2 separate regions of the Homo sapiens genome follow, and region 2 is linked to region 1. Evidence: fine-mapped expression QTL. Tissue or cell type: transverse colon. Region 1 holds a variant in brackets; the other region holds the start of a gene. All regions are shown on one strand. Distances are from middle to middle.

Evidence for each region.
Region 2: it holds the start of PSEN2, and the variant in region 1 is fine-mapped to the expression of PSEN2 in transverse colon (GTEx, PIP 0.99). The same link has a PIP of 0.9 or more in esophagus muscle, prefrontal cortex and tibial artery.

Annotation. Positions count from the first base shown.
Region 1 is chr1:226,894,416-226,907,866 of GRCh38, reverse strand. It overlaps PSEN2 (presenilin 2), which reads right to left. Exons shown (of 13, transcript NM_000447.3): 13 at 11,769-12,443. The coding sequence ends at 12,288. Among named protein-coding and RNA genes, the nearest start is that of PSEN2, 31 kb to the right of the region's middle. RefSeq lists a silencer at 11,742-11,973. The variant T/C (reference allele first, on the strand shown) is at 9,744.
Region 2 is chr1:226,861,292-226,877,426 of GRCh38, reverse strand. It overlaps PSEN2 (presenilin 2), which reads right to left and starts at 6,811. Exons shown (of 13, transcript NM_000447.3): 1 at 6,778-6,811; 2 at 6,023-6,165; 3 at 1,877-2,062. LOC105373119 (a long non-coding RNA gene) reads left to right here and starts at 6,877. Exons shown (of 3, transcript XR_949226.4): 1 at 6,877-7,065; 2 at 15,710-15,878. RefSeq lists silencers at 6,349-6,398, 6,409-7,008 and an enhancer at 13,505-14,053.

The DNA of each region.
Region 1 (13,451 bases):
ATCACACACACGCACGCACGCACACACACACATACTTTAGAAAGATACATTTTCTTTTTTTTGAGACAGAGTCTCATGTTGTCTCCCTGGCCTGAGTGCAGTGGCGCCATCTCTGCTCACTGCAACCTCCACTCCCTGGGTTCAAGTGATTTTCCTGCCTCAGCTTCCCAAGTAGCTGGGATTACAGGTGTCCATCACCATGCCCGACTAATTTTTTTTTTTTGAGAGTCTCGCTCTGTTGCCAGGAGTGCAGTGGTGCAATCTCAGCTTGCTGCAACCTCTGCCTCCCAGGTTCCAGCAATTCTCCTGCCTCAGCCTCCTGAGTAGCTGGGACTACAGAAGCACACCACCACACCCAGCTAATTTTTGTATTTTTAGTACAGATGGGGTTTCACCATGTTGACCGGGATGGTCCCAATCTCCTGACCTTGTGATCCACCACCTTGGCTTCCCAAAGTGTTGGGATTATCGGCATGAGCCACCGTGCCTGGCCACAGCTAATTTTTGTATTTTCAGTAGAGATGGGGTTTCACCATGTTGGCCAGGCTGGTCTCAAACTCCTGAGCTCAGGTGATCCGTCCGCCTCGGCCTTCTAAAGTGCTGGGATTACAGGCATGAGCCACTGCACCTGGCCGGAAGATACATTTTCTTAGCTGAATGAGATGGTAATTAGTAGAGGGTGACATTGGCTAAACTGGGGCATGTCCTGTTTCAATTTGGTCCCCCAGCAGCAGAGCTGAACAGGAACTGAGTGCAGGCAGTTCCCATGCACCACAGAGAACACCGAAGAGGGGTGAGAGGACATGGCCTGGGATCAGGCTTCCCTCATGAGGCCAGCAGGCAAGGGAATGAATATTTACTGGATAATACTTTAACCCACCACCAGACTGACATCTGCCAAGGAAAGTAACTCCAGACACCTAGTCTAGTTCTTCATTCATAAATGTGAACAGTCAAGCAAGGATCATCAGCCATTTTCAAAGAGTTATATAAGAAATAAAAGGACCTAAGATGAACAGATAAACAAAAAGGCTAAAGAAAACTGAGACAATTAATCAAATAGAAAACCTTTCAAGAATTACTCGTTTCTCAGTAAGAGCTGAGAAGATATTGCCTCCATCAAAAATAACAGCTATGAGAGAGGAGCAAGTAAAGATCATGAGTTTTTGGAAATTAAAAAAAAAACAAACAAGATTGTCAAAAAATAAAATCTAAAAAGGCTAGAAGAAAAATCCTAGCATACAGAGCAGGGAAAAGACAAAGGGATGGAGAGTAGGAGACAACACTGAAGAGACACTAAAAAACAAGTTCTGAGATCTGACACCAGTCTTGAGGGAATCTCAAAAAGAGAAAACAGAGAAAATAAATAAGGGGAGAAAATTTCCAAGATCTGAATAAAGACTCAAATATTCAGATTTCAAGGCACAGGGAATGGTGAGCAAGATGGATGAGTAAGAATCAAATCCACATCCCTGACTCTGTGAGTTCTCTGTGAATAGTCACTATTTCAGAGTTGGACTGACCTGATCAAAGGTTCTGGGGGCTCTTGGGGGCGAGGTTACATCATAGTATGTGGCCACCTGCCTCCTATTGGCTCCTTTTCCTTCTATATCAAGTGGAGGCCAAATCCCTCCCCAAGTATTATCATACAGAGACATTCAGCTCCCCTTGCTTAACCAGACCCTGTGCTTAGTAGAAGAAAAGCCACCAAACAGGACCCTTTTAAAAAGCGAGAGTTATAAATAGAAAAATATATTTAACAGGTGCGTAATAATCTTGTGTTTCCCTAAGGCAGTCTAAGTGGCTTTCTGCTCCTTCTAATCCAATGAAGGCAGGCAGATTTGGTACCAGCAGTGGGGATGCACAGAACATACCCTCAGAAGGAATATGTAAGTGACTATGGCACCATGTCCTTTTGTGGGAGGGGGTGAGTGATCACCGTCCCATGCAGGGGTGAAAGTTCATGGTTTGTGATGATGCAGTGTCTGAGAAAACCACCACCTGTGACTCAGGGATGGAGACGCTATTCCCACCAAGGATGAAGCTTTGGAGAACTCTGTTGCCATTGCTTAAGATGCATCCCAAGATAATGAGGAATGCAATGAGGAACGAATGGCTGCATTGCTACAAGAGAAAAGGGATGAATTCTGCTCCCAGCTTATTTACCTGGAAACAGATGTGAAATTATTGCAATATCCAGCTACAAGAAACACTTTCTTCTCCTTACATCCCCTAGCCTCAAAATCTTGTTCCAATACAAAGCAGTGTATCTATTCATTTAATTTTCTGATACATGCCCTTAGGGCTTCACCTTTTACTTGATGCTTCTCATCAAGATGTTTTCTTAAATAAATACAGCTTTTTTTTTTTTTGAGATGGAGTTTCATTATTGTCACCCAGGCTGGAGTGCAATGGTGTGATCTCAGCTCACTGCAACCTCCACCTCCCGGGTTCAAGCGATTCTCCTGCCTCAGCCTCCCTAGTAGCTGGGATTACAGGCATGTGCCACCATGCCCGGCTAATTTTTGTATTTTTAGTAGAGACAGGGTTTCACCATGTTGACCAGGCTGGTCTCGAACTCCTGACCTCAGGTGATCCATCCACCTTGGCCTCCCAAAGTGCTGGGATTACAGGCGTGAGCCACTGCGCCCAGCAGTAGCTCCCTTTCTAAGAAGAATTCTGGAGAAACTACTTAGACAAGCTTTTTGGGGGTGTTAAACACTGGAGGAGCAGATTTGGGGTGTTGGTGGGAGAGAAGAACAGTGTTTTGAGACACCTAAGTGGAAGAGATACCAAGTGAGCAGAGATGTCTGACTGAAAGGTAGGTCAGGCTTGCATGTGGCTGCACGTACTAGAAACCCAACTATAATAGTTTAACCAGATAGGGGTTTCTATTAATAACATAAAAGAAGACCAGGCCAGGCACGGTGGCTCAAGCCTGTAATCCCAGCACTTTTAGGAGACCTAGGTGGGTGAATCACTTGAGGTCAGGAGTTCCAGACCAGCCTGGCCAACATGGTGAAACCCCATCTCTCTAAAAATACAAAAATTAGCAGGGCATGATGGCTTGTGCCTGTAGTCCCAGCTACTCGGGAGGCTGAGGCAGGATAATCGCTTGAACCCAGGAGGCAGAGGTTGCAGTGAGCCAAGATGGCACCACTACACTCCAGCCTGGGTGACAGAGTGAGACTCCATTTCAAAACAAACAAACAAACAAACAGAAAAGAAGTCCAGGGGTGGCTGGGGCAGCTACTTGTGGTTTCCTTCTCTGTCATACACGCTTTGCCTGCGGCTTTCATCCTGGTGGTCGCTAAGCAGCTGTGACATCTCAAAGCATCACATCTGTGTCCCATGCAAGGAAAAAATGGCAGATTATGGCTGAGGCGCCCCTCCCCGCCTTTAAAACCAGGAGAACAATAGCTTTTCTGGAAGACCCAAGCACTAGACTTTGGCAGAGCTGAGTCACATGGCCACTCCTAAGTGCCCAGGACCCTGGGAGGTGAGCAGTGCTAAATATGCAGGAGGACACCCTGAGCACAGCAGGATCTGCTAGGAGGGATACTGGGGAAGGCAACTCGCTTGTGAAAGCCACGTGAATGGATAGGATCACACTGGGAAGAGAGGAGGAGCAAGCAGAGAAGAGGAATGAGAACTGAGCCCTGAAAATGTGCATCTAGGGTAAAAGCAGAGCAGCAGCTGGAAAATGGCCAAGGAATGAGCAGGAGGAGGGAAGAAGAGTAGGAGGAAACTGCCAAACAAAATAAAATTGGAGCTGGGTGCGGTGGTTCATGCTTGAATCCCAGCGCTTTGGGAGGTTGAGGCTGGACAATCACTTAAGGCCAGGAGTTCCAGACCAGCCTGGGCAATATAGCAAGACCCTGTCTCGACAAAAATTAAAAAAAATTAGCAAGGCATGATGGTGCATGCATGTAGCCTCAGTTGAGGCAGGAGGATTGCTTGAGCCCAGGAATTCGAGGTTGCAGTGAGCTATGATCATGCCACTGCATTCCAGCCTGGGTGACAAAGCGAGACACTGTCTCTAAAAAAATTAATTTTTAGGAACTGGATTTAGTAAGGAGAGACTTTATTCAAAAGGATTATTGCAAGGATAGGAAGGGGCAGGAAAGGAGATCATTGCAAATAGGGGGAACCTCTGACTGTTAAGATCTTCCAGAGTCTCAAGATCTAGGCAAACACGTTTTCTGGTTTTGTTTTTTTAATAGGGGAGTAAACACGACCAGAAAGAACAGATGTGGGGAAGTGGAATGGAAGGGCAGCAGGATCAGGTAGATCAGAGGATGTTCGACTCTGGGGCCAACCTCTTCTCCAGAGGGGATGTCTGCCGACTCAGGAAAGTTTAGGGACCTGGGGAAAGGAGGGAAGTTTGGTTAATGAGCATTTTATTCCGATTAATCAGTGGGGAAAAGCAGCTCAGCTAATCATTTAGAAGACTAAGAATGGGAATTTGGAGGGTCTGTGTGTGTGCTCTTGTCATAATTAAACAAGGGAGACATCTAAGAGGCCTAAGTGCTCTGGGAAGATGGCTCTTTGCAGGAAGCTGTCTGCTAGAACACAAAGCATGGGGGGTTTTCTTAACCTTGGCTGTTTCCAGAAGCAAGGGCTGAGACAAAATCCAACATTTTCAGAACCAACAGAGACAGGGTGTCATGAAAGGCTTGGAGAAGAAAGTATTTCAAAATCGAGACCACCCATTGTTAGAGTAAGTCATGCTGGAGTCAAAAAGAAAAAATCAAAAAATGAAAGAAAAAAACTCAGTGTTTTAGTATGAGAATGTTATTACAATTTTTAAAAATTTATTTTGATAATTTCAAGCCTATAGAAAGGTTGCAGGAATAGTACAAATAATTCTTCCTGATTCCCCAAATATTTTACTACGTTTGTTTCTCCATGTGTGTGTGTTCAGCCTCTCAGGTTTCTGTTCCCCTCCGAGTAGGCTCTGGAGTACTGGAGGGTGGGGTAGGCAGAGGAGGGTGGCTCTGGGTGGCCAATTGGGGTCTCCTGGCTGTCCATCTCTGCTGGCAGCTGTAGGCCCTTGCTGGCAAGACTCGGAACCTGATTTCCTGGTTTGGTTATAACAGGTGCTTGCAAGCCAGCCCAGCCTCCCCAGCTCTCACTGACAGACCCTTGGCTCAGTGGACACCCCACCCCATTCCATTGCAGGCCTCAGAGAGGGACTGCTGGCTCTCTGCTTGGGGACCTACCACCTGCCCCCTCAGGAATGGTGGGAAACTTCTGTCTTGTGCCGTGGCTCAGAGAAGATAACCCCTGCCTACCTTCCAACCCCACTGACTTCCCTTTGGAAGATGGTACAGGATCAGGTACTGTTGAGCCTGAGACCTGACTTTCTCCCCAAATCCCAAATGGGGAGCAAGGGGAGGTCTTCCCTACCTCCTCTCTTCTCTCCATCCTCCCCATTCCCAGAACACCCCAGGGCCCACGGTAAGCCATGCCCTTACTTCCTCTAAATCAGGGGTCCCCAACCCCCAGGCCATGGACCAGTACCAGTCTATAGCCTATTAGGAACCAGGCTGCACAGCAGGTGGTAAGCGGTGGAGATGAGCATTACCACCTGAGCTCCGCCTCCTGTCAAATCAGTGGCATCGGATTCTCATAGGACCTCGAACCCCATTGTGAACTGTGCACGCCAAGGATCTAAGTGGCACACTCCACATGAGAATCTAATGCCTGATGACCTGAGGTGGAGCAGTTTCAGCTCCAAATCATCCCCCCAACCCCTATCTGTGGAAAAACTGTCTACCATGACACCAGTCCCTGGTCCCTAAAGATTGGGGACCACTGCTCTAAGTCACATCCTCCTCTCTCCATGGATGCGGCCCCTTCCCTACCTCCTGGGAGAAACTCTAAGGAGTCTTCTGGGTTTGAGTTTTCAAACCTACCACTCTTATTAAATGACCCAAGTCCCTACATCTCCTGCCCTGAGGTGATAAGACTCTTCCTTGGCCTTCCTTAGGGGAAAATTAAAATGCATGGGTCATTTGCAAAGTAGCAGCTTGCTACAACTGTATTTTTCTCAGAGGCCTTCTCTTCAAGAATTAATGTTATCTTCCCCTTTTTGGTCATTTTAAAAGTCATTCTCATAGGGAAATCTTTGACTTTAAATTTTAAAACTTAATAAAATGTAACAAAAGAAAGATATCTGACCAGTAAGCACATGAACAGGTGCCCAACGTCATTAGTCAGCATTAGGGAAATGCAGATCAAAGCCACGAAGAGACACCACTTCACACACACATGAATAGCTAAAATTAGACTATTTTTTATTTTTGGCAGAGATGGGGTCTTGCCATGTTGCCTAGATTGGTCTTAAACTCCTGGGCTCAAGTGATTCTCACGACTCAGCCTCCCAAGGTGCTGGGATTATAAAATCATACTTTTTTTTTTTTTTTTTTTGAGACAGTTTCGCTTTTGTCACACAGGCTGGAGTGCAATGGCGTGATCTTGTCTCACTGCAACCTCTGCCTCCCTGGTTCAAGTGATTCTTCTGTCTCAGCCTCCTGAGTAGCTGGGATTACAGGTGCCCGCCACCACGCCCAGCTAATTTTTGTACTGTTAGTAGAGACGGAGTTTCACCATGTCGGCCAGGCTGGTCTCGAACTCCTGACCTCAGGTGACCCGCCCACCTCGGCCTCCCACAGTGCTGGGATTACAGGTGTGAGCCACCGTGCGTAGCCTGTTGGGTGTTTTGAGTGGCCTCGACAGGAAGATGGCAGCCCATGCTTGTTATCAATTACACACTGCAGGGAGGACCTATTTCTGCTAGTCAAGAGCACCTATTCTACAAACCACATACCGTGGGCTTATATACTAACTACTCCCTGCTTGATTTTGGGCAAGTCAGTGATCTCTGTGCCTTAGTTTCCTCATCTATAAAATGGAAATTAGAATAGTAGTTACCTCCTATTGTTACGAGAATTGAAGGTAAACTCATTTAGTGCGAGCCTAGCACAAGGTTGGCACTGGGTAAGGGTTTGCTACTGTCACTGTTACTCTCTACAGAGTCCACAACCACTGTCTCGAGGTCCTTCCTAAGGTGTCCAGTGTTGCACACAGCAACACAGCACTTCTGCTTATATTCAGTTGGCCATTAGTCACATGTACTGACAAGTATCTCCCTGGCTGCCTTCAGGGAGCTCTTGGCCAATGTCCTAAAAGCTTCCCCACAGCTTTCTGGCCATTCACTCAGACCGGACCCTTCCTCCCTACCACCATTCAAAGCTGTCCCAAAATCCACGGTCCCTCACAACACCTTTCTCAAGTAGCTGAAAGAAAGGCAGTGGTTACAGGACCCTTCCTTCTCAGCGGGTGACCACAGGACCCTGCCGCCCCATTCGACTCACATAAGCATAAAACACATCACCGAATCACAAACTGCAGGCATGCTTCTACTTTGCATAGTTTCATCGGCTTGCAATCCACATAGACTGTGCTGTCAGGCATGAAAATTGTCCACAGAGGGGGCAGGGGGGTGCACATGGATCTGCACCTCATCCTTGGTCACTCTAAGCCACTCGCAGGCATTCTGTAGAGAGCCAATGGTGGCAGCGGTGGGGGGCAGAGGGTCTCCTAACCACTGACCATTCTGACTGCTGGTCCAGCTCCATCACCTTCCCCTCATTTTAACCCCAGGATGGAGGTCTACCTTAATCCCCACTGCTGTCATCTGCTGCCTCCCGGGGCCCATTTCCACCGTCTTTGAAGACATCAGCTTGTGATTCACATGATCCCTCACGACCCCATTTTCTCATTGTTTTGGTAACTTCATTATCTGCATTGGTAAACCAAAAGACACGCCATAACCACGTATCCCTTATCTTGTTTAGGTGGATATATGGCCACTTGAAATAAAGACATTTCCCAGTCTCTCAGTCTCAGACAGGTATGGCCGTGGGACTAATGGCCAATTGAATATAGGCAAAAGTGCTGTGTGCAACTTTGAGACATGTTTTTAAGAAGAGGAAATGCACCCTTTTCTAACCTCCTTTCATGCTGGATGGAGTGTGACTTGACGGCTAGCACACAGCAGCCAGCCTAGGTCATGAGGTGAAAGCCACTTACTGATCTCAAAGGAAAAAGAGGCATCTGACCCCTGATACCATGCACTATTGCACCCTCTCCAAGCTGCCTGTGCCTGTGAAAGGATTCTAGCCCATCTTGTTTAAACCACTGCAGTGACCTAACCCTTACTGACTCCCACCACCATTCCACACTATTATACTTCTGTAGCTTTATACTGTTTTAGGAGATCCAGTGTAACTTCAGATTTACATACCCTCTGCCTCTAGCATCTCAGGAACAGAAACTCTCAGGACAGGCCCCATCTTCTCCTTTCACCACCTAAGTTTCTCTGCTTCAATCACCTGGTGAGGCATTGGCCTGCGAGAGAGCAAGTTCTATTAACAGTAGAGAGCTCAGGAACCCATCCACCCACTTATGGAAACTTGGTATATGTCAGGAGAGTTCTACAGACCAGCGAGAAAGGAGAGACTGTTCAGTAAACAGTGCTGGGACACCTGGTTACAAAGAAAAACAAAATTAGGTCCCTACTAAATACAATCATAAAAATACATTTCAGATGAACTAAAAATCTTATTATGAAAATAAAAATTTAGAAAACCTTGAGGGTAGGGAAGGATCTCTTAAAACAAGATTCAATGGCATAAGCCATACAAGCAAAAAACTGATAGATTTAATAACATTAACATTTAAAAATTACTTGGGTCCAGCAAAACACTCCTAAAGGCAGGGAAGAGAGGCAAGCCACAATGTACCAGACATTTGCAATGCATATAATTAATCAAAGATTAGCATCTCTCCAGAATATATATTTTAAGAGGCTTAAATATCCGTAAGACAAAAAATCCAAGTGAAAAATGGGCAGAGGATATGAACAAGTAACAGAGAAGGAAACTTGGGCTGGGCGCAGTGACTCACACCTGTAATCCCAGCACTTTGGGAGGCCGAGGCGGGTGGATCACGAGGTCAGGAGATCGAGACCCTCCTGGCTAACACGGTGAAACCCCATCTCTACTCAAAATACAAAAAAACTAGCCGGGCGTGATGGCAGGCACCTGTAATCCCAGCTACTCAGGAGGCTGAGGCAGGAGAATGGCATGAACCCGGGAGGCGGAGCTTGCAGTGAGCCAAGATCACGCTGCTGCACTCCAGCCTGGGCGACAGCGCGAGACTCTGTCTAAAAAAATTAATAATAATGAACAGAGAAGGAACCTTGTACAGCCAATACACATATGAAAAGATAATTATAAAACCTAAAGGAAATGACACCCATCCAATCAGACAAGATGAAAAGTCTGATGACACCAAGTATTATAGAGTTGGGGAACTCTCAGATTGCGGATGGAAGGATAAACAGACACATACTTGGAGGGTAATTGGGAATGTCCAGTCAATTGGGGGAATTCCAATACTTCCTCAAATCCACACAATGTGATGGGATGCTCACTGCAGCACAGCTGTAATACAGAAACACTGCAAAACCCCTACAGGTCGATCAATAGCATATAAACAGTAGAACTCATACAATGGAACACTATACAATAGTTAAAATAACTGGGCTGGGCACGGTGGCTCACGCCTGTAATCCCAGCACTTTTGGAGGCCAAGGTGCGTGGATCACCTGCAGTCAGGAGTTTGAGACCAGCCTGGCTAACGTGGTGAAACCCCGTCTCTACTAAAATACAAAA[T/C]TAGCCAGGCATGGTGGCGGGCAACTGTAATCCCAGCTACTCAGGAAATTGAGACAGGAGAATTGCTTGAACCCAGGAGGCAGAGGTTGCAGTGAGCCAACATCACGCCATTGCACTCTAGCCTGGGTGACAAGAGCAAAACTCCATCTCAAAAAATAAATAAAATAAATGAACTGGAGCTACATTTATACATGCCTCCAGAATGCAATATTTTAAAAAATTATCAAATATGTACAGTATGATACCATTTCTGTAAAGTTAAGAAAACATGCCAACATACAAAACAAAACTAACCATAGATGAGAAGGGCAGAAATCGACTTCAGGACAGGAGGCGGAGGCAACAGGACTGGGGCCACATACAAACAGGACTTCAGAACGTGGGTTTTATTTCTAAAGACAAATCTGGAGCAAATATGGAAAGATATTAGTTGACGGGTTACACGGGGGAGATACAGGTGTTTGAACACCAGTACCCTGCTCTTGTTCGGCATGTTCGAATGCTGTCTTTTACAAATTCTCTCATTTTTCTTCTTTGCCATTTGTGTTCTGGGTTCATTTGTCTCCCTGCTCTCTGGGGACCTCCAAGTAGCATCTCCTCCAGTGTCTTTGTTCTCTCCAATGCTCTTCCCTCGTCTTCTCACATGTCCTTGTTTTCTCAGTCTTAACACTTCACCCTAACCATCACCAGGCCCCTTCATTTCTTCCTCCCTCGCTGTCTACTTAAGGGCCCCCAATTTCTGCCTTTACCTCTGAATGTGGTCTCCACCCAGCAACCCTTGGCCAGGCCTTTGAAAGACCTCAAGCTTAATGATTCAAAATATATGTCCAATCCCATCTTTGGAAACCCCACCCTAAAACTGCTCTTCTGAAGATAAACACTGCCATAATTGCCAAATTGAATAAGCTTTTCAGTTTTTCTTTCCCCTTAACCTCTTGCGAGTTGTCACCATCAGGGACCATCCCTGTCTGCTTTACCCGCTCCCCGCTGTGGCTTCCATGACGGCAATGCCCCCCATCCCAGGTCTCTGACCTGCACTACTAATCAGTGGGATTCCACCCGCCAGTGTTCGGCCTCCTCTGTCCTTCCTTCTTAGGGCACCACATTTTCCTCTGCCCTTCCTCAAACAGCCTGGGGGAAAGCAAGCTCCTGTCAAATGTCAAGATACACAATTCTCATTCCTCTCATAATAAAGATGCATTGTCCCGGCACTCATGTTATTCCTGGAACAGGGAGACAGGGGTACCAGTTTGAACCCCAGGGCACACTTGCGTCTTCTCAGCTGTCTGATATACCTAACACCTGCTTGATCTCGGCTCATTGCAGCCTCAGCCTCCTGGGCTTAAGTGATCCTCCCACCTCAGCCTCCAGAGTAGCTGAGACTACAGATGCATGCCACCATGCTTGGCTAATTTTTAAATTTTTTTTTGTACAAAGTCTCACTATGTTGCCCCGGCTGGTCTCAAACTCCTGGGCTCAAGTGATCCTTCCGACTCGACCTCCCGAAGTATTGGGATTACAGGTGTGAGCCACTGTGCTCAGGAAGAGGCACTTCTGAGATTCTCTTTGCAACCCATGATTGATGTACAGAGAAGGCAAAGCCAAACTGTCCACTCTCCCACCACAGTGCCCAGGGCCAAAGCCAGAGAAGGAAAGGAGAGTGGTTTCTGAGCTCAGGCCCTCACAGGCTTCTGCAGAGGGTGAACACTTGCTGAAGGAACCACTGGATGTTTTGGCAACCACCTGGCAGTGTCTGTGCCACCGTGCACAACTGAGTCCAGGGACCTGCTCAGCATCCACAGCCTTACAGCTCAGGGCTGGCAGATGTCAGGCCACCCTGCTCTCCTAACTCCTTTGCTTAGGAAACTTTCTAGTTAAAGAAATGTGTGCAGAGAGGCGAGATCATTAAAAGTTCCTTCAAACAGGGCAAACTGCCTCCATCCTGGGCTCACAGCACAAGTTATCCCAGGGGTGCCCAAGATGCAGGGAGAGGGGTCAACATTTACAACGGACCAAACTCCAAGATTCTAACAGGACTCATCTATTTATTGATATTACTATTAAGCCACTTCCCAGCAGTGTGACTGCCGTAACAAGAACAGGACTCAGTTTCTAAAGGCAATAAAATAACAAGGACATCATGGACAAAGCATTGGGAACACTCCTCGTAGGGAACTGGCTTTTCCTCTCCAGCCAGAGCACCCAGGTGCCAGGGGCCACTCCCGAGCACACTCTTTGCGCATCTCAGCCCTCATGCCGGATGCTCTTCTCCCCGCCCTAATCTGACCTTCTCAGTTCATCTGGATAAACCTGCTGTGCTTCCTGTCCGTGAAGCGAGGCGCTCCCCAAAGCGGGAGCCAAAGTCTGGTGATGAAACAGCTGGCACCAAAGAGCTGGTTCTGCCTCCTCCTCACCAAGTAAACACGTACTTTATTTTTTAAGGAAAGAAAAGTCTTAAAAATATATGGCACTAGAGTGTAAAACTATACAACTGCATCCAATGAAAATTCCCTGCAGCTTGCAGCCTGTGGCACACCATGTCCCTCAGATGTAGAGCTGATGGGAGGCCAGGGTGTCCATGAACGGCCGCACCAGGTTGTCCGTGGAGAAGTAAAAGATGAGCCCGAACGTGATGGAGATGGGGAGGGCGGGCAGCGCCTTCTTGAACACAGCAAGCAGCAGGAGGGTCAGACACAAGCCCTGCAGGACATGGAGGGGAGGGTGAGCGTGGTGATCCCTGGTGTGGACAGGAGCTGTGAGTCATGGTCTAGTCCCTGGGCACAGGAGCTTGTTCGAGGACCAGTCGGATAACGGCGCTAGACACCCCATTATCTTCCCTGGTCCTGCAACAGCTCTTGAGGTGTTAAGGGCAGAAGTTCTCACCCCCATTAGATCACCTCACCTGTTAGTGAGTGAACCAGAAGGCAGGCCTCCTGACTCCTGGAGCAGTGCTGTGCCCCGAGGCCGTGCTGCCTCCCCTGTCTGGCTGGAGTGGTCACATGGGATGGTAAGATGCCCTCAGGGAACATGTATTTATATGAGAGCTAGGTGGGCTCAACTGAAATGGCAGTAAGGTTCTCAGCAGCTGGCACCAAGGGAATCAGAGCCGCCAGGCAACCTGCCCCTGGGAAGCAGGTGTGGGGGCTGCCCATCCTCCCCTGACCCAGCTGATGCAGGCAGTGGTCCAGGTGAGCACAGGGAACCAGGGTGCCTTCTATATCTTTGGGGCCAGCAGGGCTCAGGTAAGGCAGTCTGGTGGTGGAGGAGCCTGGGTCCACCATCCCATCCCTGATATACTTGTGGGCAAAAAGAAAACCTTCTGGACACTGGAGCATCAACCTTAATCATGCCATGCCCAGGGTTTTCACTAAGGGGCAGATGCCAAGCGCACGGCTCAGACGCTCCTCCTCCTCTAACGTGACAGCGAAATCTCTGAGATGAAGTCACGGCAGGACGTCTCCCCATTATGTGTATCTGGTCACGTTAACTGACTACAGGGCCTCCACATTTCACTGCTGTGGTTCACAGTAACGGGGCCACCCCTAGTGCCCCAGATTCAGACCCTGTGGTGTCCCAATGGCATGGAGGAGGGGGAAAACATGGTCCTCACTAGCTTTGCGCCCATGGGCAAGGCCCTTAAGCAATTTTCTTTTCTGCAAATCTGATGTCATCACAACCACCTCGAGGGTATCATCACTGCGCAAAGCT
Region 2 (16,135 bases), 32 kb after region 1:
TAGCCGGCACTAAACATCCTGGAGCAAGGTGCTACTATTCTTCCCCATGGTACTGATGAGGAAACAGAGGCTCAAAAAGTAATTAGCTCAAGGTTACCCTTGGACCTAGGTAGTGTGTCTGGACTCTTCACCACTCTGCTAGGCTGCTTATTAACAATGCAGATCTCCAAGCTCCATCCTCACCCAGTGTCAGGGATCCGCATTCGGGATGGTTGGTCCCCGGGTGATTCTCAGCCAGTGTCAGACTTTTCCTGGCACTGTCTCTGCTTTATAATCACCCGAACAGGCTGGGGCCCTTTCTCAGCAAGGTGAGTGTCCCTCACCCACCCACCTTCACCCTCTCACTGCTTGGCACTACTTGATTGCCACATGAGAGAGTGAGACAATGAACACTTTCTCCTGAATACCTAGAGTCTGGTCAGAGAGCAACTAGGGAGGAGGAGGAGTGGAAAAATCTCAGACCAGCAGAGCGGCATGGGGAGAAGAGAGCTCTTGGGCTGAAAAAGGCCCAAAACAATGCCCACTGCGGAGGAGAGTGTGGAAAAACTGGGTCTCAGTCACTACCTGGACAAACTGCACTGGCCTTAACTGAAAGGAGTAAGAATCAACACTTTAAACACAGCATACCTTTCGATCCTGAAATGCTACTTCATGGAGACTGTGACAGGACCACCAAAAATCTTATTTCAAACATTTAATAACCTGAACAATGACACGCTGTTAAATTTAACCGAACATAAAACTTTACGAACCTGATCATCTGAATGTCCTTATAAAATGTATGTATATAAAAGATCGGAAATATTACAAAACATTAAAGATGATTATCTTTGCATGGTAGAACCAAGAGTGGTTTTTATTTTCTTGATATTTTTCTGCATTTCTCTAAGTCGCCATAATAAACACAGACTGTATCTGTAGGGTTTATTTTAGGCTATTAATTCTTTAAAGGAAAATAACGAGCATCAACATTTAGACAGATTTTCCTCTACATCTGCCCCTCCCAGATCCCCTCTCATTGGCCAGGAGGAGCAGATGGGACTCAAAGGCTGTAACTTTTTTCATTTGTCCCTCAGCCCCTCTGATTTACCTAGCTCCTGAAGGAAAACAGAGCATCTGGGATGGACTTCTGCTACCCTCTGAATTCCTGAGGGCCTGCTTTGCAAGCCACCTAAGTCTGCTCTGAAGCCTGCTGGTGCTCTGAAATCCTTGGAGGGAAAAATCACCACCCAAACGTGTGCAGATAAACAACACTGCTAGGTGTCTGTCCACATTAGAGTGCCGGTGACGCGATGAACTCTCCCCGGAGGCTGACTCACGGGCAGGTGGGGGTGGGGCTGGGTGATGTCAAGTCCCATCAGCCACTCAGCGACCAGCTTTCCCCGTCTCCCACCCCCTGCACCCCATTCTCTAGAGAAGTGGCAGGAAAATGCAGAGAGGCAGAAGGAAGTGTCCAACATAGACTACGTTCTGGAAAGCCTTCCAACAAGGAAGTGCTGAGGCTGATAGCTGCTTTGGATTAGGATGCAAAATCAAACATCCAAAGAAGCCACTGCACATTCCCATTAATCAGCTGAATGGGATCAAACTGCTGAATTAGCCAAACCAAGGGAGTCTGACCTAGAGAATCTCCCCAGCCGTGCTTGTGTCAGCAGTTCCTGCAATCATTATGGAAACCCAATGACCCAATTTCCTCGACCTTCTTTTCATTACAGAGAAATGTAAAGGCTTTGGCCTTAACATTTAAGGCCAATGGAACTAGGTAAGAAACAGATTTCAAAATGCCACAGCAAACTCCCATGGAAATCTGCCTCCACGGAGAAAATCCTAATGGAAAAAGAGGGTTCAAAAGCAGGTTGGGAGTCACTGCACTTACCACGAACACTTGGGGCCGCAGAGAGGTCTGAATCCCGGACACTTGGTTTCTTCTTCTCAGCAGGCTAAATGAATGATGCTCCCTGGCTTTCAAAGAGGGCAGCGCTGGTTTTTAACACGTCACTTTCTATGGTCACACAGCTCCCTCACATCACTCTCCTGACGTCTGAGAAGTCCCACGTCCTCGCTTAAAACAAGGAAGAGTTTGCTAAGGTCAGGTGATACCCAGACAATTGCCCACAGCTTCCCTGCTCACCTTCCTCCCCCTGGCCCTGGGTACCCGACTATGTATTTGGTCCAGCTGACCATCCATCTCAGCTCATATAGTAACACATACCACTTGGGGATGGTTCTCCCTGGCCTAAGCCAGAGCTGGGGCCTGAGTCTCAAAGGGAAGTGAGGTACTGCCCTACCACCCTCCCGGACCACAGGCCCCAGGGGCCCTCTGATGGGGCCTCCTGAATTTTGGGCCAGGCTCTAGACTTACCTCTAACAGCCCTGTCCCACTCAGAAGTGCCTGGGGCCCAGGCAGAGTTCTCTCATTTCCTGAAGCAGCCAGGGAAAAGGGTGGTTTGTGGGGAAGTGGGAGAGGGAGCCCCTAGCACGCCCCTCTGGAGTAGGCTCCAGAAACACATTTATTTTTAAACAAGCAGCAGCAAGTCAGCGGTCAAAAGCAGAGGCTTTGGAGACTGACAGGGTTCAGATCGCCTGCCTATGTGATTTGAACCACATACTCCCTGGCCAAGAGGCCTCAGACAGTCTAATCTGACACAGCTCATTTCCTCTGCTGTAAAAAGCAGAACAGGCATACCTTGCAAGATTATCGTAAAACCTAGAGATAACCTGTAAAGTGTCCAGCACACAGTAGATGTTCAATAAGTCGTAGTTATAAAGAAGATGAAATGGAGGAGGGACACAGTGAGAAAGGACACGGTAGCCTATGGATGTGCCTCTTGGAAAGTTACGGATCTGCTGAACCACCAGACACATGAACTGGCTTCAAAGGCCAGGCCCCAGAGATCAAGTTTCCATTCCCGGCCCAGCCCCAGGCACTATGGCCACGTAAACATATTATCAAATGAAAGGACATATCCATAGGACAATGTCAGAGCTGGCAAGGACCGTAAAGGCCATCAACGCCACCTAGTCAGCTCCCTGTATTATAATTAAGGACAACTGAAGCCTAGAGGGGCAAAAGTAATCAGTTAATGTCCCATGGCCAAAAGCCACAGTTACAACTCAAGTCTCCAAACTGCCCATCAAGGAGCTCTTCTCAGCCCAGTCAGCACTTGTGAGGGTCACGTACCCAGTGGCCAGGGTTTGGTCACACAGGCAGGCCCACCACACACTACACAGGCTTTCTGGGAGCACACTCACAAGACACATGCCTTCACCACGGGCAGGTATGTGTCAAGAAATGCTCCCTAATCACTCACTCACCAGCTCATCTGTCACCTCAAAACTCTCAAGTCTCTCTCCTGCCCCCAGGGCTCACTCTGCTCTCCCTCTGCTACTTGCCCAGGTAGGTTTGGCTCCATGGTGGGGAGTGCCCACATATGGGCATGGGGAGGACAGAGGGCACTGCTTCTCTGGGGCAAAAGGGAGGGTGGGAAAGTGTCCTGCTGTGGGACTGGTAGGATAAATAATTCAAATGCTCTACACAGCCATCAAATCTGCTTTTCCATGAGTACTCAATAAAAGGAAAATTCTGAAGGCATAACAGAAAAAACAGGATACACAAACTTCACCTACGGTTCCCTCCCTCTATTGTTTTAATAGATAAATATGCATATGTGAACAGTGTGGAAGGAAATGCATGTTAAGAGTGGTTATCTCAGCCCAGCGCAATGGCTTATGCTTGTAATACCAGCATTTTGGGAGGCCAAGGTTGGCGGATCACCTGAGGTCAGGAGTTTGAGACCAGCCTGGCCAACATGGTGAAACCCCGCCTCTAATAAAAATACAAAAATTAGCTGGGAGTGGTGGCAGGCACCTGTAATCCCAGCTACCCAGGAGGCTGAGGCAGGAGAGTCGCTAGAACCCGGCAAGCAGAGGTTGCAGTTAGCTGAGATCATACCATCGCACTCCAGCCTGGGCAACAAGAGTGAAACTCCATCTCAAAAAAAATTTTTTTTCCCTAATTTTCTAGAATAAACATGAATTACTTTTATTTTAAAAAGAGTCCAGTAAGTTTCTGGTTAAGGTACAGCAGAATGGTGGACACCCTTTGAATTGTTCTTCCCGTTCTAGAATTTTCACAAAGATGAACAAGCAGCCCATTCTCCCACTCAGTGAAGAGGCTCTCAAGAAATGATCTCCCTCACTGACATCTGATCTTTCCTGAGGACTGATGTGAAACCATTTTTTTTTTTTTGAGATGGAGTTTTGCTCTTGTTGCCCAGGCTGGAGTGCCATGGCCCGATCTCGGCTCACTGCAACCTCCGCCTCCTGGGTTCAAGCGATTCTCCTGCCTCAGCCTCCTGAGTAGCTGGGATTACAGGCATGTGCCACCACGCCCGGCTAATTTTGTATTTTTAGTAAAGATGGGGTTTCTCCATGTTGGTCAGGCTGGTCTCAAACTTCCGACCTCAGGTGATCCACCCACCTCGGCCTCCCAAAGTGCTGGGATTACAGACATGAGCCACAGCACCCAGCCTGAAATCATTCTTTTCTCCAGACATTAACATGATGGTCATCCCATCTCCAGGATTGGAGCCCAGTGGAAAATGTTCCTCTCGGGGCCTCTCAGCCTCACCCCCGCCTTTCCGCAGCTGTGGCAGCTGGGAATAGAACAGGTGGGAATACTTGCAGAAATATTTGCTGTCTTATCAGTCCCCAACTAAACAGTGTCCGAAAGTCAAAGCAACAGCTGAAAACCCGCCAGAGATGTTTTCATTAGACACACTGCATGTGACCTACACACACTGCTTTGGTTTCTTTAAAAAAATTTTGTTTGTTTGTCAGGAAGTTGCTCATGGGGACTCCACAAAACTTTCCCAGCAGTAGTGGAGAGACACGGGTAGGAGTTGAATACAGGAACCTCCTGCGCAAAAACTCAAGAGATAAAGACAGTGTAGCCAGCTATGTTCAAATCCTGGTGCTTAAAGCACTGAAGCCACATAACTGGACTAGCTGCTTAACTCCCTGAACTTGTTTCCTCTTCTGTAAAAAGGTAATAATAAACTATTTCAGTGTCATTGAAATTCTTAAGATCTTAAATTCTAATATTCTGTACAAGATAGCTTTTTATTATGACCAACTCATAAGCGAGATATATGTCATTATTAACATCGATAACAGAGAAAGGCCAAAGTAGGCAAGAGGCAAACCCCCCTTGGGGGGACGGTGAGCAGCTACGGAGGGGAGACAGGTGTGACATTATGCACCACAGCTCCAGGCACCCCAGCAGCAGCCCCTAGCCCTTGCTCCTCCTCCTCCTTGCTGCTCTTTCAAATAGACAGGAACAAGCCACTCACTCCCCACATGTGAACATGCTGGACTCAAGACTTGGCACATGGGCACTTCAACACCAAAGGGTACAGAGTTTTCCCCAAAAACCTGATACATCCATCCCACTTCAAAGCAACATGCCCCCAAGCCCTCACTCCAGTCTCTGCCCTGGAACCCAAGGCTCAACGTGGGCGTCGTGAGGACGCAGCTCTGAGGTGGGGCCAAGAACCAGGCCCCTTCTGCACCTGCGCCAGTCACCGGCTGCCCACAACCACATTCAGGAGAGAAGAACCTGAGGCTCACACACCTGAAGCAGCTTATCCCGAGACTCCAATTACCGCCAAAGGTCTTGGCTGAAGGCCTTGGAGGCTCAGGTGTCTGCAGAATTGGCTACAGAGGCATCAGAGGCTTCCTTACTGGAAGCTGGGGTCGGTCCTAATCAAGTTACTTCGTAGACAGCCTTGGCAACCCCAGGCTGTCGCTTCTGAGTTAAGTTAGTCTACAATCGTCTCTATGGAATGCTCTCAGGTTCTCCATTTGTAAATAGGGATGCAGTTACTTCACTCAACACCGTTCATACCTTTCAAAGGGAATACTTATTAAGGCAATAAACAGGGGTGAGGTCTGCTCGGAGGGATGGACAGCAGATCTAGAAGCCAGGACACTGGGGTCGAAGCCTGGCTCTGCTATATCGTACCTGGGCGACCTTGGGAAAAGTCACTTTAGCTCTGTGGCCTCAGTTTCTTCATCAGTAAAATTCAGAGGGGGGACTAGCTTCTGTCTCAGGTTCCTTCAGCTCCAAAAGCTTGCTTCTGGCTGTCTCCTCACTGCTGGAAATGCCTGATAAAACAGCCAAACACCGCTGCTAACAGAAACCGGCTCTAGGCTTGAGCCTGCGGCCCTGCCCCTCACGTGCGGGCAGAGCCCCCGCGCGCCTCCTTCCCGGGGAAAGCATGCCCAGGACCCGGTGCTAGAGGCCGAATGGACTCGGCGCAACGGAGGTCTCCGGCGAGAGAGAAGAAGAACAAAACGCCCCCGCCTGCTACACGCCTCAGAGACCCACGTGCACCGCTCCTTTAAATGCACCGGCCCTTTAACCGCTCGCGCCGCGCCCACCCCCAGCCGGGGCTCGGCGGCAGGCGGGCGCAGGGAAGTGGGGACGCAGTGAGGCCGAAGGCCTGAGGGCCGCTCCCCGCGATCCTTCCACGACCCAGTTCCGGGCCGGCCCAGCCGCCGCCTGCCGGGCACTCTCCTCTCTCCGCCCCCGCGCTGGCCGCAGAGGCCAGGAGCGCTGCGCACGCAGGGGCCGCAGACCCACAGCCGGGGAAGGGACCGTGGCCAGAGGCGTGCGGAGGGCAGGGCAGGGCCCTCAGGGCGCAGCCCCACCCCGGGCCCTCAGCGCCGCAGGCGACAGGGCCCTGGCCTGGGCACCCCCCGGCACCGCCCGCTCACCTGCTCTGCCGCCGCGCTCCAGCGGAGTTTACGCAGCTGGCTGAGCGCCCGGCCGGACCCGGCGCCGGCCCAGGCCCCGCCCCACGCCCGCCCAGGCCACGCCCGGTGGGCGACGCCGCGTTCCCTCGTCCACTGGGGCCCCACCTGGAGTCCCGGGCGCGCGGGGAGGGTGGCCTTCACGCCGCGTGGATGACAGGGTCATCCCGACGTCGGAACTAAGCGACGACCTTAGAAGGAGTGGAGGCCGGGCCTGTCATCTTCCTGCGGGCCTGGCAGCAGCGTGGGGCGGTAGGACATAGGCTTCGAGGACACTCTTTCTTGTAGTTTTGGGTCCACATCCCCTCCTCCTCCCGGTTGTTCTCACATTAAAGGAGCACTAATGGCCCAATGTGAGCTAACACCATGAGAATGTTCCTGGTCTGTTCCCTAGGGCGCTTCAGAGCCACCAGGAGCTCTGCATAAAATTGAACAGGAATAAATTGCTGCCTGACCTGAGAATTGGCCTAGGGGGTTGTGGTTCCAGGATTTGGGGTCTGTGGGGTAGGTTGAGATTGTCAATAATTTGGCGTTGTCTGAGTAGTTTTACTTTTTTTTTTTTAACTTAAGGTGAAATTCACATAACATAAAATTTACCATTTTAAAGTGGGCATTTCAGTGGCATTTAGTGAATTCACAATGCTGTGCAACCACCACCTCTGTCTAGTTCCAAAACATTTTCCTCATTCCGAAAGAAAAACCCCATACCCATTGAGAAGTTTCTTCCCAATGCCCTCTTCCCCCCCAGCCCCTGGCAATTACCAGTCTACTTCTGTCTCTATATTTACTTACTTTAGATACTTCATATAAACGGAATCACAGTGTGTGGACTTTTGTGTCTTTCACTTAGCATGTTTTCGAGGTTCATCCTCAGGTAGCATGTAACAGACTTTATTCCTTTTTATGACTGAATAGTGTTTGTGTGTGTATATGTATATGTGTGTGCGTGTGTGTGTGTGTATCATGTATGCCACAGTTTATTCATCTATGGACATTGGGGCTGTTTGCATCTTTTGGCTTTGTGAATAATGCTACCATGAACATGCATGTACATGTATTTGTTTGAGAGCCCATTTTTATTTGGGGAGGGTACATACATAGGGGTTGAATTGTTGGATCGCATGGTAATTCAATTTTTTTTTTTTTTTGAGACAGAGCCTTGCTCTGTTGCCCAGCCTAGAGTGCAGTGGCCGCAATCTTGGCTCACTGCAACCTCTGCCTCCCAGGTTCGAGCAATTATCTTGCCTCGGCCTCCTGAGTAGCTGGAGTTACAGGTGTGTGCCACCACATCTGGCTAATTTTTGTATTTTTAGTAGAGATGGGGTTTCCCCATGTTGGCCAGGCTGGTCTTGATCCTGAACTCAAGTTATCTGCCTGCCTTGGCCTCCCACAGTGCTGGATTATAGGCATGAGCCACCGTGCCCAGCCTTCAGTGTTTAACTATTTGGGGAACCCCAAGTGGTTTCCACGATGGCTGAACCATTTTATATTCCTACCAGCAATGTACAGGATCCCAATTTCTCCACATCCTCACCAACACTTGTTATTTTCCATTTTATTGTTATCCTAGTAGGTGTGCAGCGGTACCTCATTCTGGTTTTGGTTTACATTTTCCTAATAACTAATGCTATTAAGCATTCTCCTTTTCATGTGTTTGTTGGCCATCTGTATATCTTCTTTGGAGACATGCCTATTCAAGTCCTTTGCCCATTTTAAAATTGGGTTGTCTTTTTGTTGTTGGGTTGTAAGAGTTCTTTATATATTCTGGACACTAGACCCTTATCAGATATATGCTTTGCAAATATTTCTCTCCCATTCTGTAATTGTCTTTTTCACTTTCTGATGTCCTTTCATGCACATAAAACTTTAATTTTGATGAACTTCAGCTTAACTGTTTTTTCTTTTGTTGTTTGTGCATTTGGTGTCCTGTGTGAGATATCATTGTCAAATCCAAGGTTGTGAAGATTTACTCCTGTGTTTTCTTCTAAGAGTTTTATAGTTTTAGCTCCTATATTTAGGTTGTTGATCCATTTTAAGATAATTTTTGTATGTAGTGTGAGGTTAGGGTCCAAGTTCATTGTTTTGCATGTGGACTTCTAGTTGTCCCAGCACCATTCGTTGAAGAGATTGTCCTTTTCCTATTGAATTGTCTTGGCTTCTTGTCAAAAATCAATTGGCCATAGATGGATGGGGAAAACCAAATATTTTCAAAGAGCTGTTTAAATGCAGATTAACCCTGGATGGAACTGGGGCAGGCCAGCATTTTGGCTAAGAAAATAATGGTCCAAATAATGATCTTTGATAAATTTGAGAAATTAATTACATTTAACAGAATTATAAAAATAATCGATTCTTGGAAAAGGAAGGACACCTGAAGGTCACAAAGTCCAACTCTAACTGATGCATATGAGCCCTTGCTACAGAATTCCTGGGAAATAACTCCCCAACCTGGTTTGTTGTTGTTGTTGTTTTGAAACAGGGTCTTGCTTTTTCGCCCAGGCTGGAGTGCAGTGGCACGATCTCAGATCACTGCAACCTCTGCCTCCCAAGTTCAAGTGATTCTCTTGCCTCAGCCTCCCAAGTTAGCTGGAATTACAGGTATGTGCCACCCTGCCCAGCTAATTTTTGTAATTTTAGTAGAGAGGGGGTTTTTGCCATGTTGACCAGGGTGGTCTCGAATTCCTGACCTGAAGTGACCCTCCCGCTTCGGTCTCCTGAAGTGCTGGGATTAGATTACAGGCATGAGCCACCGCGCCCATCCCTGATTGGTTGTTGTTGTGTTGTTGTTATTTAGCTTTCAGTGTTGCACTTGATAGGCTGAATTTCCCCTAATGTGAAGAGGCTGCATATGCCCTAAGGTGAAGCATAATGACTCAATAAATGAGTTAGGAAGTTGTGATATAATAAAAATAAATATTTGGTCTTTATCCCCGTTCCTGGCACAAGCTTCTAAAACCTTTGGAATCTCAGGTGTGATGAATGTTGTTGGTATGCTAATGAAATGACTGGTGGCTGGGGACCCCTGACTAGCTTCAGGATAGGGGCTGGTGGCCAGAAAGACTAAGGCATGATCTAAACAAACAGAAGACTGCAGCCCTTAATAAGCATTAACAGGATCTGATTTCCAGAGTTACCACATTATAATATTCAAAATGCCCAGGTTTTTTTTTCTTTCAATCAGCTTTTTCAGGTTGAAGTGCCCAGTTTTTGTTTTTTTTTTTTTTTTTGAGACAGAGACTCCCACTGTCACCAGGGCTGGAGTGCAGTGGCGCGATCTCAGCAGCCTGCAACCTCCACCTCCCAGGTTCAAGCGATTCTCCTGCCTCAGCCTTCCGAGTTGCTGGGATTACAGGCACCCACCACCACACCCAGCTAATTTTTTGTATTTTTAGTAGAGACAGGGTTTCATTATGTTGGCCAGGATGGTCTCGAATGCCTGACCTTGTGACCCACCCACCTCGGCATCCCAAAGTGCTGGGATTACAGGCGTGAGCCACCATGCCAGGCCCGAAGTGCCCAGTTTTTAACCAAAAAGTAAATAAATAAATAAAATAGGAAGCATACCAAGAAAAAAGAAAAGTACAACCCATTCACAGGAAAAAGAAATTGATAGAAACCATCCCTGGGGAGGCCTAGACATTGAACTTGCTAGACAAAGACTTTTATTTAAATGTTTAAAAGTTTACTTAAACGTTTATTTAAATGGTCTTAAATATGCTTAACTAACTAAAGGAAACCATGGACAAAGAACTAAAGGAAGCCAGGTAAACAATAAATGTATAAACAGAATATCAGCAAAGAGACAAATTATGAAAAATAAACCAAATCAAAATTCTGGAGCTGAAAAGTACAATAGCTGAAATGAAAATTTTGAAAAGATGAACAACACTGACAAATCTTTAGCTAGACTGAGAAATAAAGAGTAAAGATGCAAATAACTAAAATCAGACATGAAAGTAGGGGCATCACTATGGACCTTACAGGAAAAAAAAAAAAAAGCATTTTAAGTGAATACTGTGAACAACTGTACACAAATGACCAAAACTGACTCAGGAAGAAATAAATCTGAACAAGCTAGGAAAAGTAAAGAGATTGAATCCAATAAGAGGTTGAATCAGTAAGGCCAGGCACGATGGCTCAAGCCTGTAATCCCAGCACTTTGGGAGGCTGAGACGGGCAGATCACGAGGTCAGGAGATTGAGACCAGCAGATCACGAGGTCAGGAGATTGAGACCATCCTGGCTAACACGGTGAAACCCCATCTCTACTAAAAAAAAAAAAAAAAAAGCCGGGTGTGGTGGCAGGCGCCTGTAGTCCCAGCTACTCAGGAGGCTGAGTCGGGAGAATGGCATGAACCCGGGAGGCGGAGCTTGCAGTGAGCCGAGATTGAGCCACTGCATTCCAGTCTGGGTGACAGAGCGAGACTCCATCTCAAAAACAAACAAAAAAAAAAAAGGTTGAATCAGTAATCAAAAACCTCCCCTAAAGCAGGACCAGATGGCTTCAGCTTGGTGAATTTTCTGCCAAACCTTTAAAGAAAAATTAACACCAATTCTCAAACTCTACTAAGAAATAGAAGAGGAGGGAATACTTCTCTGAACTATTTTTTCTCACAACACTTCTGACACCAAGTGTGTGGTTTTTTTATTCCACACAAAAACAATTCTCCAGACACCAAGTGTGTGTCCTACAATTCAATTCAATTCTGATAATATGTACCTGAAGTTAGCAGAAGCTCCCCAGACGTAGCCATTTGGGGGTGTTTATGGAAGTTTTATTGCGTAGGCACCATTGATTGATCAACATCATTGGCCATAAAATCATTGACCCAGGAGGTCAAGGGGTAGGGCTGAACAGTCCAGCCCTCTTTGCCTGGCAAGTTCAATGTCTAGGCTTCCTCACGGATGGCTTCTGTCAGTTTCTTTTTCCTGTGAATGGGTTATACTTTTCTTTTTTTCTTGGTATGCCTTCTAATTTTTTTTGCTGCTGTTAAAAACGACATTTCAACCTGAGGAAGCTGATTGAAAGAAAAAAACTGGTCATTTTGAATATTATAATGTGATAACTCTGGAAATCAGATTCTTTGCCCTTTGCAAGATTTGCTGTTATTGCTTATTAAGGGCTGCAGTCTTCTTTGTTTAGTGACATTTCCATATGATTTTTGCAGACTGCATTCTTTATATGTAGACACTGAAGTCTTTGATCTGTTACCTCAGTGGTCAGCCACAGTTGACACAGATTTCCTTAAATACCTGGACTAAAAACACCTGGACCAAACACAAAAGAAAAATCTTCTGATCTTGGCAGATTGGCTCTGAGCTGAGGCATTCCTTAGACACTTAGCCAAGCCACTCTTTCCATTTTCCCTAGACTTTACCTCCTGCTTGCATGGAATACAAAGATCAGCCACAGGTGCAAGCCTAGGGTCCTCTTAGATCTTTTCTGAGCATGTGTCCAGCCCTGGACATGTGCATTGCAGCCTGGGTTCCCTGGTATATGCAGTAGCCCTTCAACGACCTTCTTTCCCCAAGCATCTTCCTCCTCAGCGTCCTCCTTCCCAGGATTTTTGGTCTATGTGCTGCATGACCCATCTGCTGTCCCTTGCTCCAGACAGCTATGGGGAGTTTATGTCTTTAAATGTTTTCAACAGGCTGGGCACGGTGGCTCACATCTGTAATCCCAGCACTTTGGGAGGCCAAGGTGGGTGGATCACCTGAGCTCAGGAGTTTGAGACCCACCTGCCCAACATGGTAAAACCCCGTCTGTATTAAAAATACAAAAATTAGGCAGGCATGGTGGTGGGCGCCTGTAATCCCAGCAACTTGGGAGGCTGAGGCTGGAGAATTGCCTGAACTCAGGAGGCGGAGGTTGCAGTGAGCTGAGATCGTGCCGTTGCAGTGAGCTGAGATCGTGCCATTGCACTCCAACCTGGGTGACGAGAGTGAATCTCTGTCTCAAAAACAAACAAGATGCCACCTGGGGAGGTGCACCAGCCTGAGGGGTTGAAGAAAAGACAAGCCTCTGCACCAGTCCCCCAGGGAACTGCCAGGCATGTCAAAATGCACAATCACAATTACTTGAGAACAAAGTCCATATTGCTCACCCTGGCACCAGCAAGCTACATGAGGAATGTTTAGTCCTCTCCCTGAATCCTAGGTACATGGACAACTGCCCATAAGCCACTGCACTCAGAAATCCCTCAGACTATTTTAGGTGAAGCCCTGTAACTAAGTTCCAGGTAATCGGATGGAAGGAGAAGAGGCATGTCTTTTTTGTCATTCTGCTTCCTTTCGAGAATATGGAGATGATAGCCAGAGCTCAGGTAGCCATGCTGGGCCATGAAGACCATGAGGACGGTGAAGCCACAAAATGGAAGGAGCTGTGTCCTCAATTGTGGAGCCACTAGCTTGGCATTGCCTAATTCCTTACTTGGTTTCATGGAGGGAAAACCACTTTTATCTTGTTTAAGCCATTGTAATTTTGTGATTCCCTCACATACAGTTAAATCAAAGCTTGCTTGCACACACGGCCTTTCCAGCCACATTCCTCCTACGCTGTATGCCCCACTAGCTATGCTCAATGCCATGCAGCTCTCTCTGCTTCCATTTCTTTGCACAGCGTTTACTGGGAGTTATCAGGAGGGTCTTCTTCACTTGTCTCTCTCACTACCCATGAGTGTCTTGTCTCTGTCTTGGATTCCTTATTTTAATTCTTGGAGGAACTCAGGGAGAGGAGGGCATTATTGCTTTTTTACACATGGGAAAATGGAGGTTTACAAAGACAAAATTGTTTCCCAATTGTGCTTGGATAATGAGTAGCAGAACCAGATGTGGAACTCAAGTCCCTCTGGCCCAATGCAGTGGCTGGCCCTCTCCTTCACTTTGAAGGTCCCATGGCAGTGCATGCACTGGGGCTGTGGCTGAGGGATCTTTGATGAATTCATTCCCTTTGTGGTTTTCCTTTGAGGTCGTCAGCTGCTTTTCACATGCTGATTTGTGAGGGATGAGTAAACTTCTTCCTGGGCCTGGCCTCAGTTCAGGAGGGATGGCCTCTCTTCGGGTTTTGGTGTTCAGAGCATGGTGTTTTCTTTTAACACACTCTAGGGTCCCAACACTGCTTAGCAGACAGCGTGGGGGAACGGAACCCGTGTGAATGTTAGAACCAGATGGACCCAGGTCTGAAATCTGTCTCTTCTACTTATTTGTTGCCTGACCCAGGGTGATTTCTTAACCTTGCTGGGCCTCAGTTTTCCCACCTGTGAGAGGATAGGATGATATCTCTCAGAGGTTTATAGAGAGAATTAAAGAGAAACCAGTCAAAATGACAGGATTATGGCAGGCACTCTACAAATTTTAGTTGTCTTCCTTCTCCTACTTCTCTTCTCATTTGAGGTAGGAGCTTTGTTTGGTTTTGTTTGACATTGAAATGATAGACTATATTATTGTTCACAAATTTGGAAGCCTTGCTTCACATGAAAAAAAAAATAGAAGAGTAGATGAAGCCAAGTGTGGTGACTCATGCCTGTAAGTTCCAGCTACTTAGGAGTCTGAGGTGGGAGGATCACTTGAGCTTAGGAGTTTGAGTCCAGCCTGGGCAACATAGTGAGACCTCTGTCTCTAAAAAAAGAAGAGTAGATAAGTGCTAGCAATATCTGACATAAGATTGCCATGGAGTGAGCCTGAAGTAGTTTCTTTTGAGCCATGCAGAACCACATTCCATGTCAACAATAGTCTCACCAGTAGGGTTCCAGGGCAAGGTCAGTCCGACATGCATGAAACCCAGCCATAGCATAGGCACTAGGGACACATCCCTAGGGTTTGCCAGTCATGTGTGACACTGGGGACAGAAGGGATGCTTAAAGGACACCTTAAAGCAGCTCTTTCTTTGCTAGAGCTTTTGCCAGTGTGTCTGGGAGTTGGCACCAATCATCTGAAAGATTCTGGTCAACTCACCTAATGACACTTACCACCACATTTTTCCAGCATTTTCTCTGTATTATGGGATGATTTCATCTTTCCATGGAGGATGTTTATGTGATTTTGAGACACTCTTAGGATGGGTCTGCTCTTACCATTTCAAAAATTTAAGCCAGCAATCCTCAACCTTCTTGGCTTCATAACCTCTATACTCTGTTAAAACTAATTCAGAACTCCAAAAGCTTTTGTTTATGTGGTTTATGTTTACCAATACTTAACCATATGCTGTGGTTTGGATGTGGTTTGTCCCTGTGAAAACTCACCTTGAATTGCCAGTGTAGCGGTGTTGGGAGGTGGGGCGTATCAGAGGTGATTAGCTCGTTAAGATGGACTTCTTGTGAGACCCGGCTAGTTCTTGCAGAACTGAACTAGTTACCATGATAGTGGGTTGTTATAACGCAAAGCTGCTCCTTGTTTTTGGTCCCTTTTTTGTACATGCCTGCTTCTCCTTCTGCTTCTCCACCATGTTATGATGCAGCGGGAAGCCCTCACCAGAGGCCAGGCAGATGTGGGCGCCGTGCTTCTTGAACTTCCAGCTCCAGAATCATAAGCCAAAAAAACCTCTTTTCTTTATAAATTACCCAGCCTCAGGTATTCTGTTACAGCAACATTAAGTGGACCAAGATACCATGTTAGAAAGCAAAACTGAGAAATTTTTTAAAAATATTCACTCACTTTAGAATGACAAACCCATTATGTGTTAAGATATGACATTCTAATGAAAAATCTATTTTGCAAACAAATTTAGTGGGAAGAATGGTACTGTTTCACATTCATGGTGAGCAGTTATGGCCCTCAATTCTGTCCACACCTTAATACTCTGAACCTATAAAACATGTTATTTTACGTGGCAAAAGGGACATTACAGATATGATTAGGGTTAACGATTTTGAGATGGGAGATTATCTTTCATTATCCAGGTGGACCCAATCTAATCATCAGCTCCTGAAAAATGGAAAACCTTTTCCAACTGGTGAGAGGGAGATGTGACAGTGAAGGCTCAGAGGGAGATGCACTATTGCTGGCCTTGAAGATTGAGGATGGAGTCAAGAGCTAAGGAATGAACAGGACCTCCAGAAGCTAGAAAAGGTAAGGAAACAGATTCTTCATTAGAGCCTCCAAAAGGGAACACAGCTCTGGGATACCTTGATGGTAGCTCAGTGAGAACCCATGTCACACAGCGGACCTACGGAGCTGTACGAGAATAAATTTGTGTTGTTAAGCCACTGTGGTTTGTGGTAATTTTTAATGGTAGCAATAGAAAAACTAATACAAGGCCAGGTGCAATGGCTCACACCTGTAATCCCAGCATTTTGAGAGGCCAGGTTGGGTGGATTGCTTGTGGT